Linked DNA regions of Homo sapiens: regions 1 and 2 are each linked to region 3. The links come from fine-mapping of genetic effects on gene expression. A gene starts in region 3. Each other region holds a variant in brackets. All regions are shown on one strand. Distances are between the middles of the regions. Region 1 overlaps CSGALNACT1 (chondroitin sulfate N-acetylgalactosaminyltransferase 1). Region 2 overlaps CSGALNACT1 (chondroitin sulfate N-acetylgalactosaminyltransferase 1). Region 3 holds the start of CSGALNACT1 (chondroitin sulfate N-acetylgalactosaminyltransferase 1).

Evidence for each region.
Region 1: its variant is fine-mapped to the expression of CSGALNACT1 in whole blood (INTERVAL, PIP 0.93).
Region 2: its variant is fine-mapped to the expression of CSGALNACT1 in whole blood (INTERVAL, PIP 0.98).

Annotation. Positions count from the first base shown.
Region 1 is chr8:19,688,670-19,691,512 of GRCh38, forward strand. The region is part of intron 1 of CSGALNACT1 (chondroitin sulfate N-acetylgalactosaminyltransferase 1); the gene reads right to left. CSGALNACT1-AS1 (CSGALNACT1 antisense RNA 1) reads left to right here. Exons shown (of 2, transcript XR_007060841.1): 2 at 55-893. Among named protein-coding and RNA genes, the nearest start is that of CSGALNACT1-AS1, 12 kb to the left of the region's middle. The variant A/T (reference allele first, on the strand shown) is at 1,103.
Region 2 is chr8:19,665,400-19,668,242 of GRCh38, forward strand. All of the region lies in intron 1 of CSGALNACT1 (chondroitin sulfate N-acetylgalactosaminyltransferase 1), which reads right to left. Among named protein-coding and RNA genes, the nearest start is that of CSGALNACT1-AS1, 12 kb to the right of the region's middle. RefSeq lists an enhancer at 1-357. The variant A/AAG (reference allele first, on the strand shown) is at 1,484.
Region 3 is chr8:19,756,085-19,758,584 of GRCh38, forward strand. It overlaps CSGALNACT1 (chondroitin sulfate N-acetylgalactosaminyltransferase 1), which reads right to left and starts at 1,193. Exons shown (of 9, transcript NM_001354483.2): 1 at 1,102-1,193.

The DNA.
Region 1 (2,843 bases), 67 kb before region 3:
GAATATGAAAGCTCTCTCAGCCCACTGTATCCTTCTCCCTCTTTCCTGTCTCAGCTAAGCACTCTGAGAGCATCGTCTACACCTGCTGCTTCCAGATCATCATCTCCCAGTTGTTCCCAGCAGCCCAGCAGTCTGACTTCCATCCCTACCATCCCAACAGAACTGCCCTCGCCAACCTCCTCCACATGCACCATGGTCCGAAGATAATGAACACTGCTCAGGACTCGCCTAACTGGGACAAAATTGATTCCTATCTGGACGTGCAGCCATGCATGTCCACGTAATTATGGATAACAGTGCAGTGTCACCTTAGCAACAAGTGATCAGTCTTTCATTTAGAAGCCACAGTTTGGCTAGGGTAAATGTTAATGAGAGGCTTCTAATGGAGTATGGCAGTTTTAAAACATACCAAAATCTTTGATTCTCCTCTTAATCCATCTCCTATTGCCCCGTCCTCTGCAATCTGGGCCAAGGAGTACAGCACAGCAGTAGCGATGCCATGTGCCTTCCAAGACGATGTCATAAAAGACTGTATTATAGTTCTCCACCTGGTTCTCCTGGAACAATCACTCTTATAACCCAGCTACCATGGTATGACAAGGTCCAGGCAGCCCATGGCGTGTTCTACATGAAGAGGGCCATTTGGAGAGGAACCAGGACCCCGGCCCTGGACCCCAACTGAGCTCTGGTCAACAGCCTTTTGAGCAGCCATCTTGAAAGAGGATTCTCCAGCCCCCTGAACGGTCCCAGCTGACACTGCATGGAACCCAAACCTTCCATGCCTAGCCATGCCCAAGTTGCCTATTTCCGAACTCAATAACTGTTGTTTTGAGCCACTGTTTTGAAGAGGTTTGCTACACAGCAATAAATAACTGATACACACGACTATAAAAGATTCTGGCTTCTGCTTAAAAATTCTATGAGAAAGATGCTGAGAATTTTCTATGTATTAAACTATTAAGATTTATAGGAGGCCATTGATTTAGACTGAGCTCCTGCTCTAGGCTTCAACAGATCCAACCAAAATAGAGTCACTCATGCTAAAGTTCCACATCACCAAACCAAAACTAAGCTATTTATCTGACCTGAGAAATCAAGAGAG[A/T]GAGATGCTAGTTAAATCCCCAAACAGCAAGTTTTAGCATAAAGAAGTCCCCTGTGCTTGAACCCTTACAAGGAAAGTGACGTAGAGTAACCTGATATTAACAATCTGCTTTTTTGCGCTATGCTGTTTTCTTGTTCCTGCTCAAGCCACCTTTTAAAAACCAACCGCCAATGCCTGATCCAGAGTCCCTTTTCTGCATCTTTAGATGAAATGATGCCCAGTTCATGAATCACTAATCATTAAAGCCAATTTGAGTTTCAAACTAAATGTGTTGAATTTTAACAGGACTCAACAAATAAAACACTATATTGTAGAGACAACTGCAGGTATAAATTTACTACAATCTGGATAAAACTTTTTTGGAAAAGGTTCAAAGCAGTTATATTCTAATACATTTCCTAATATTGAGTGGACAATTAATACATGAATACTTTTCAAATCAATTGCTAAAGTAACAGAAGATATAATTTTACCTCTTTTCCTTCCAGAAGGCAACATTAACTGCATTTATAGCCAAGTAATGCTATTTTAAAATCTTCGTTATCCAGATTAATTCTCCATACTATTATAAATTCATCAGTATTTCTAATATCATCCTGCTCCCAGGACTTAGATATCTCTACTTTGGGCCTTAACATTCTGTTTCTGCTAAGAAAAAAAAATGACAAAAGCTACCACAAGTGTGATATATAGAACTATTAAATAGTCAAAGAGCTCATCTTTCTCCTAACTCAGAGTTTGACTACAGCTTACCAAAAATGACAAAATAGAAAACATATATAAAACAGATTTTTTTCCTCTATAACCAAAGCCCACTTGTAATAAACTACATGAGAGGTTCAAATTTGCTTGATCATAATAGAGCTGTTTAAAAATACATGGCTGGAATTCACATTTGCAGTTTGCAGATGGAGCAATAACGATACTCTGAATTAATAATATGTGATTGAAACTCCGCATGGAAGGAGGGGGTGTGTTATCCCACCCTTTCTATCCTGCAAGCCTAGGTCTTCCTAAGGACTACTTTGCTCAACGGGTAATTTGGGAAATTAGAGTTTGTTGTTCAGATGTCTGAGATCAGGGATAAGCAAAAGATTTCACGACTCTGTGAAGGTCACTGGCAATGACCACAGCAACCATTAATAAAGATTGCCTTATTAAAAATCTCCATGGCACTGGGCACTGTGGCTCATGTCTGTAATGCCAGCACTTAGGAAGGCCAAGAGAGGAAGATTGCTTGAATCCAGGAGTTCAAGGCTGCAGTGAGTGGCAATTGCACCACTGCACTCAAGCTTGGACAACAGAGTGAGACCTAGTCTCAAAGAAAAGAAGAAAAACACAAATAAAACTCTCTGCGGCTTATCATAAAATGAAATGTCAGCCAAGGCAAGAGGCCACGCCCGAAGGAGAAAACAGATAGGTCTGAGTGTGGGGGTAATGCTCCAGGCAGCAGGTGGTGAGCAAAGGGGTCAAGCTGGGTTCCTGGGAAGTTCCCCATAAATTTCAGCCAACGATGCACAGGCCTCCTCCCAAACACCGCTGAGCAGGGCTTCTAGATCTCACTGTTTTTGACAACACAGCCAACCTCAGCTACCAGGGTCATTTGGACCAAAAGGGAAAATACCACTAATCAAACAGGGCCCAATTTCTTAAAACAAACAAAACAAAACAAAAACAAACACCAATTGCCTTCTCATTAGAAAAGAACTTAAGAAAATCACTAGGCCTGTTAGACCAAACA
Region 2 (2,843 bases), 91 kb before region 3:
TTATGAACAGCTTGCTTCCTAAGATAACGTCCGGGGCCAAAACTCAGAAGGAGTAAGAGGCAACTGCCTCAAAGGTACTCAGGCTGCGGGTAAACATTTGACGGAATAAATGCTCTTTATTCACAGCCTGTGTTGAAATCTCCCTGAGGATGACTCACCATGCCTTTTCCCAACATCAGGCCCAGGAAGCCACGGACTTTCCCATGTCATCACTGACTTGCAAGCCTGGGGCAAAACCACAGTCCACCCAGCACAGAACTTGGTTCTGCGACCAGAACCAAAGATGAACTTGTACCCTAGGAAGATGTGGTCTTCTAAGCCTGACAAAGGACGTCAATTTTCCCCATTCCTCTCTCTTAATTCATAATAGAAGGGTTTGGTTAATTACACCTGGGATAATGAATAACTAAAAATGTGTTCTTCGCTACGTAAACAGAACACATTCTCTATTCATTTACAGTTAACATTTCAACTTCCTCTTAGTCTCACCTCCCAGGACAAGATCAATGGACCTACATTCATCTAACCACATTGTCGATTTTCCAGGCTTCTTATTTTCTCCATCTTTTTTCTAGTTGAAGATTCCTCATTGTTTTAGACTTTCTTCATCACAGCTCTCACATGGCAGTCCAGATTTGGGTTATTTTTAATCTTTTTGGAGTTATTTCAAGTTGTTTGTCTAGTTTAAATCCAGGCAGACTTCAAGATTTTTCCCTTTGTTCCTGTACAACACTGGTGAAAGGAGGGTGCTCCACGGAAGCTGGATTTGAATGCTAGAAAAGGAACAAGGTATTCTAACAGTGTTCTTGCCACAACTTTCACCGTCAGACCTTAAAATCTGAGTGCTGTAGGGAAATTAAAACCATCTATTGTCCTCATATTATAACTAGAGGAATAGAAGCCCAGACAAAATCAAACAACTTGCTCCAGCTCCCATGAAGAAAACCCTGTCTCTTCTACTTCTTCCTATTCTATTTAGCTACTTCACCCAATTCATCTATTAACATTTTCTCAGCCAGGTGTGGTTGCTCACACCTGTAATCCCAGCACTTTTGGAGGCTGAGGCGGGTGAATCACTTCAGGTCAGGAGTTCAGACCAGCCTGGCCATCATGATGAAACCCTGTCTCTACTAAAAAATATAAAGATTAGCCAGGTGTGGTGGTGAGTGCCTGTAATCCCAGCTACTCAGGAGGGAGAGGAGGTGGGCGGATAGCTTCAACCCAGGAGGCAGAGGTTACAGTGAGCCGATATTGTGCTACTGCACTCCAGCCTAATTGACAAACCAAGACTGTCCCGGGAGAGAAAGAGAGAAAAGACACAAAGAAAGACAAGAAAGAAACACAAGAAACAAGAAAGAAAGAAGAAAGAAAGAAAGAAAGAAAGAAAGAAAGAAAGAAAGAAAGAAAGAAAGAGAGAGAGAGAGAGAGAGAGAGAAAGAAAGAAAGAAAGAAAGAAAGAAAGAAAGAAAGAAAGAAAGAAAGA[A/AAG]AGAGAGAGAGGAAGTGAGGAAGGGAGGAAGGGAGGAAGGGAGAGACAGAGAGAGAGAGAAAAAGAAAGAAAGAAAGAAAGAAAGAAAGAAAGAAAGAAAGAAAGAAAGAAAGAAAGAAAGAAAGAAAGAAAGAAAGGAAGGAAGGAAGGAAGGAAGGAAGAAAGAAAGAAAGAAAGAAAGAAAGAAAGAAAGAAAGAAAGAAAGAAAGAAAGAAAGGGAAAGAAATCTCATCACAATATCAAAAGACATAATTTCAGCCAGGTGCACAGGCTCATGCCTGTAATCCCAGCAAGTTGTGAGGCAGAAGTGGGTGGATCGCTTGAGCTCTGGAGTTTGAGACCAGCCTGCCAAACATGGCGAAACCCCATCTCTACCAAAAAAAAAAAAAAAAAAATACAAAAATTAGCTGGGTGTTGTGGCACATGCCCCTCATTCCAGCTACTCAGGAGGCTGAGGTTAGGGGGACTGCTTGAGCCCAGGAGGTTGAGGCTGAAGTGAGCTGAGATCACACCACTGCACTCCAGCCTGAGCAATAGAGCAAGACCCTGTCTCAAAAAACAAAAATCAAGACATTATTTCTATTCTACCTTAGTGCTTAAAGAGTGAAGTGATTTAATTATGACTTCTCACAACGGTAAGAGAACAATGAACTGCAATGAGAGAGTCAGTCGTGTTCCACCCCCTTTGAACCAAGGCTGATGAATTATGAACAAGTCAAGGCCCTTAATGCAACATGACCACAAAACGGCAGTAAGGAGAAGGTACTTGAAACCCTAAGACTAACGTCTCTTCCTCAGATCAGGAGAGCTTTCAAAGAGCTGCAAAGGTCATTTGCTGCTTCGTGATCAAAAATGTAAAAATCATAGGCCATAAATCACTAACTTAAGCCACAGAAAATGTAATGTAAGATTATACCATCCACATATTTTCATTATAAGGGTATTACATACTGGTAAGAATTCAAAAATCTGATAAAGCATATAAAAAAGTATTAAACTCAATGAACGATCATGGAATTTCCTCCAACTAAATATTTTAAGAAGAAATAGAATTAAAGCGCAGATCACAACTGTGAAAATGAGCATAGTGAAGTTGAACTGAAGGAAACCTAACCATTCAAATATTAGAAGAAGCTAGAAAGTAAGAATATAAAAACTTGACCAGCATATATTACATCCTTTAACTTTTCCAGAGAGAGAAATACAACTGGCTCCCAAATATGAAACATGGTCATCTACACAATGAAAAATAGTTTTCATAGATTTTTCCTATATTTTGTTCAAAAATGCAAAAAAGGAATGGTAAAATCACACAGCATCTCATCACTGCTTTCCTCTGTTCCTTTAATTGCACCCTCAT
Region 3 (2,500 bases):
TTTCTCCCTCCAATTAGCAACATTTCAGCACTGCACAGGGCTTATTAATGCTCACTGTTGCAAGTAACACCAAGGTAATTTGACTTTCTTGTAGGAACAATGTCGACGAAATCCTACAGAATTAAATTTAAATTTCCAGTTTAAAAAAAAAAACCGTGAAAGAACACTTCATTACCTTTATTATCTAGACGTATCTAATGACGTTAAGTAAAAACTGCACCAAGGCTTTGAAACCAGAAGAAAAGTGGAGTTTGTGAAATTTAACCACTCCATGCTTTTTATTAGTATTTCACTTATGAGTATTTCCCGAGGCTCACTGTTTTGGCAGGCACAGTGCTGTTAACATCTCTTCCTTTCTCACCATTCTTTGCTCATCGATGAAAAGATAACTTCAAAATCTCTGACAGGAATGCAGGTGCAGGAAGTGCGACGGAAACAAACAACTTTGCCTCCGCTTCCTACAGCTTTCCTCTCCTCCCCGCCCTTCTAGCCCCCATCCCACCCCAAGATCATGCCCTCGAACAGCTTCTGCCCACCGATCGCACGTCCCCTGGGCATGTTCGGGCAGCGGTGACCCTCAGCCACATCCCCCACTAGCCCGGTCCCGGGCAGGCGAGCGCGCTGCCCACCGGCCACCCTCGTCACGCCCCCTCCACCCTCTCCATCCCAGCCACAATAATACAATAACCGCAGTCATCGCGCGGCACGTGGAAAGGCTACTTTTCAGTGGGTTTTGCAGAAAGCAATCAGACAGCGGAAGGCCACGAGAAACGCTGGTGAAGCCAAACCGACCCCGGGAGCGCAGCGGCCCCGGACCCTCCCTGGAAGCTCCCTCCGCGTCCCCGCGCGCCCACCTGGAGGCGCCGCGCCCTCCGCCTGCCAAGCCGGTCCCCGGCCCCTGCCCGTGCCCTGGGCCCCCGGCGGGCAGCGGCGGAGGGAGGCCAGGCGCGGCACCGTCCTCCGCAGCTGCACGAGCCACCCCGAGGTCGCGGGGTGGGCGGGCGCGAGCTAGGCGCGCGGGGCTGTGGGGATCTGCCGGCGCCACTGACGCCCCCGCGCGGCACACCGCGCCCGGCTGGCCCGGGAGGGGACCCGACTCACCCGAAGCGCCCTGCTAGCTGCCCGGCCCGGCTCCGGCCGCTGCCGCCGTCGCTGAACTTTCCCTCCTGCGCGGCCGCCGCGGACTCGGCTCCACCTCCCGCTCCGGCAGCCGCGGAGCCTCCAGGGACCCCGGGGGCGGGGAGCAGCGGCGGCGGCGGCGGCTCGGGCGGGCGGGCGCAACAGCGGCCAAGCCTGGCGCCCCGCCGCAGGGTAGGTCCGGCGGGGGCGGCCAAGGCCGGGCTGGGGTCGCGGTTGGCCGCGTACCTCCGCGTCACCCACGGCCTCTCTGCAGTGCGTCCCTGCGCCCGTCGGAGCGGCGCCCTGGCCGAAGCCTGTCACTCTCGGAAGGGGCCGCGCTCGGACACCAGGGGCGGTTTACGCGTGACTGGACACCAAGAGCCGGAGAAGTTTAGAGACTAGGACACTGTGGCGTGGCCCGAGTTGCAGGAGAGAGGTGTCCAATCTCCATGGGGTCCTTACTCTTGCAGGACAGAGTTCCCCATCCCCCTGCTCCACCCGCTCTGTTCCCTTGGCTGCCCTCCCCGCCGAGCGCCGACTTCCATGCAAAAACTTTGTAAATCGCACTTCGGGGAATTCACGCTTTAGTCGCGGTCTCTGCTGCCCTGGTCAGCTATAACGCCTCCCCTAGAGAGCTTTTACTTACAGCGAAGGTCAGGAACCCCTGTAACTCTCACACCGCACCACTGTGGGTAAGCGATGTCTGCAGGGACCCCTGACGGCCACTGGGAGGCCAGGAGAGAAGAGGGAGAGGAAAGGCTAAAAAGGCAAGTGGAGTGTTGGGTAATAAAAGATCCACCGCCACCTCCAGCACACACAGGCAGGCACCCTCCAGGGCCACAGGTCGCCTTTTATCTGTAAGTGCTCCAGCGCATCTCTGTGGGAGAGGGAGTTGGGAAATAGGATCGCCAATTTTCAGTGTAATTGAGGGGGACTCAGGAGGAGTCAGTTAGACTGGAAGAGGTCATCACCTGCAGATGCGGTTAAGCAACTTGCAGAGGCCCCAGGGCTGAGCCACCGCAGAACCGGAGCTGGAAACCAGTCCTATGACTCCTGAGGCAGTGCTCTTTCTACTACCTGGCCATGGCTCCTTCTACTGCCTGGCTCAGAGTCTCCATCTGGGAGATTCCGGCGCACCAGACTTTATTGTGGGCACAGGGTAGGCAGTCCTGAGGCTATAGGCACAGTCTTGAAGCAGCTCGGTTTCCATTAAGCTCCTGCTTACCTGCAGGAAGCATCCCTGAAGCAAGTTTTGCTTCCCACCTGGACTCCCCAGGTGGACCTATCCCCACCCCACACCCTGAGTGAACTCTTCACCCTCGTGACCTAATATACCCACTGCAATTCAATTGAGACTTGGGAAACAGGGAAGTGGGTGTTT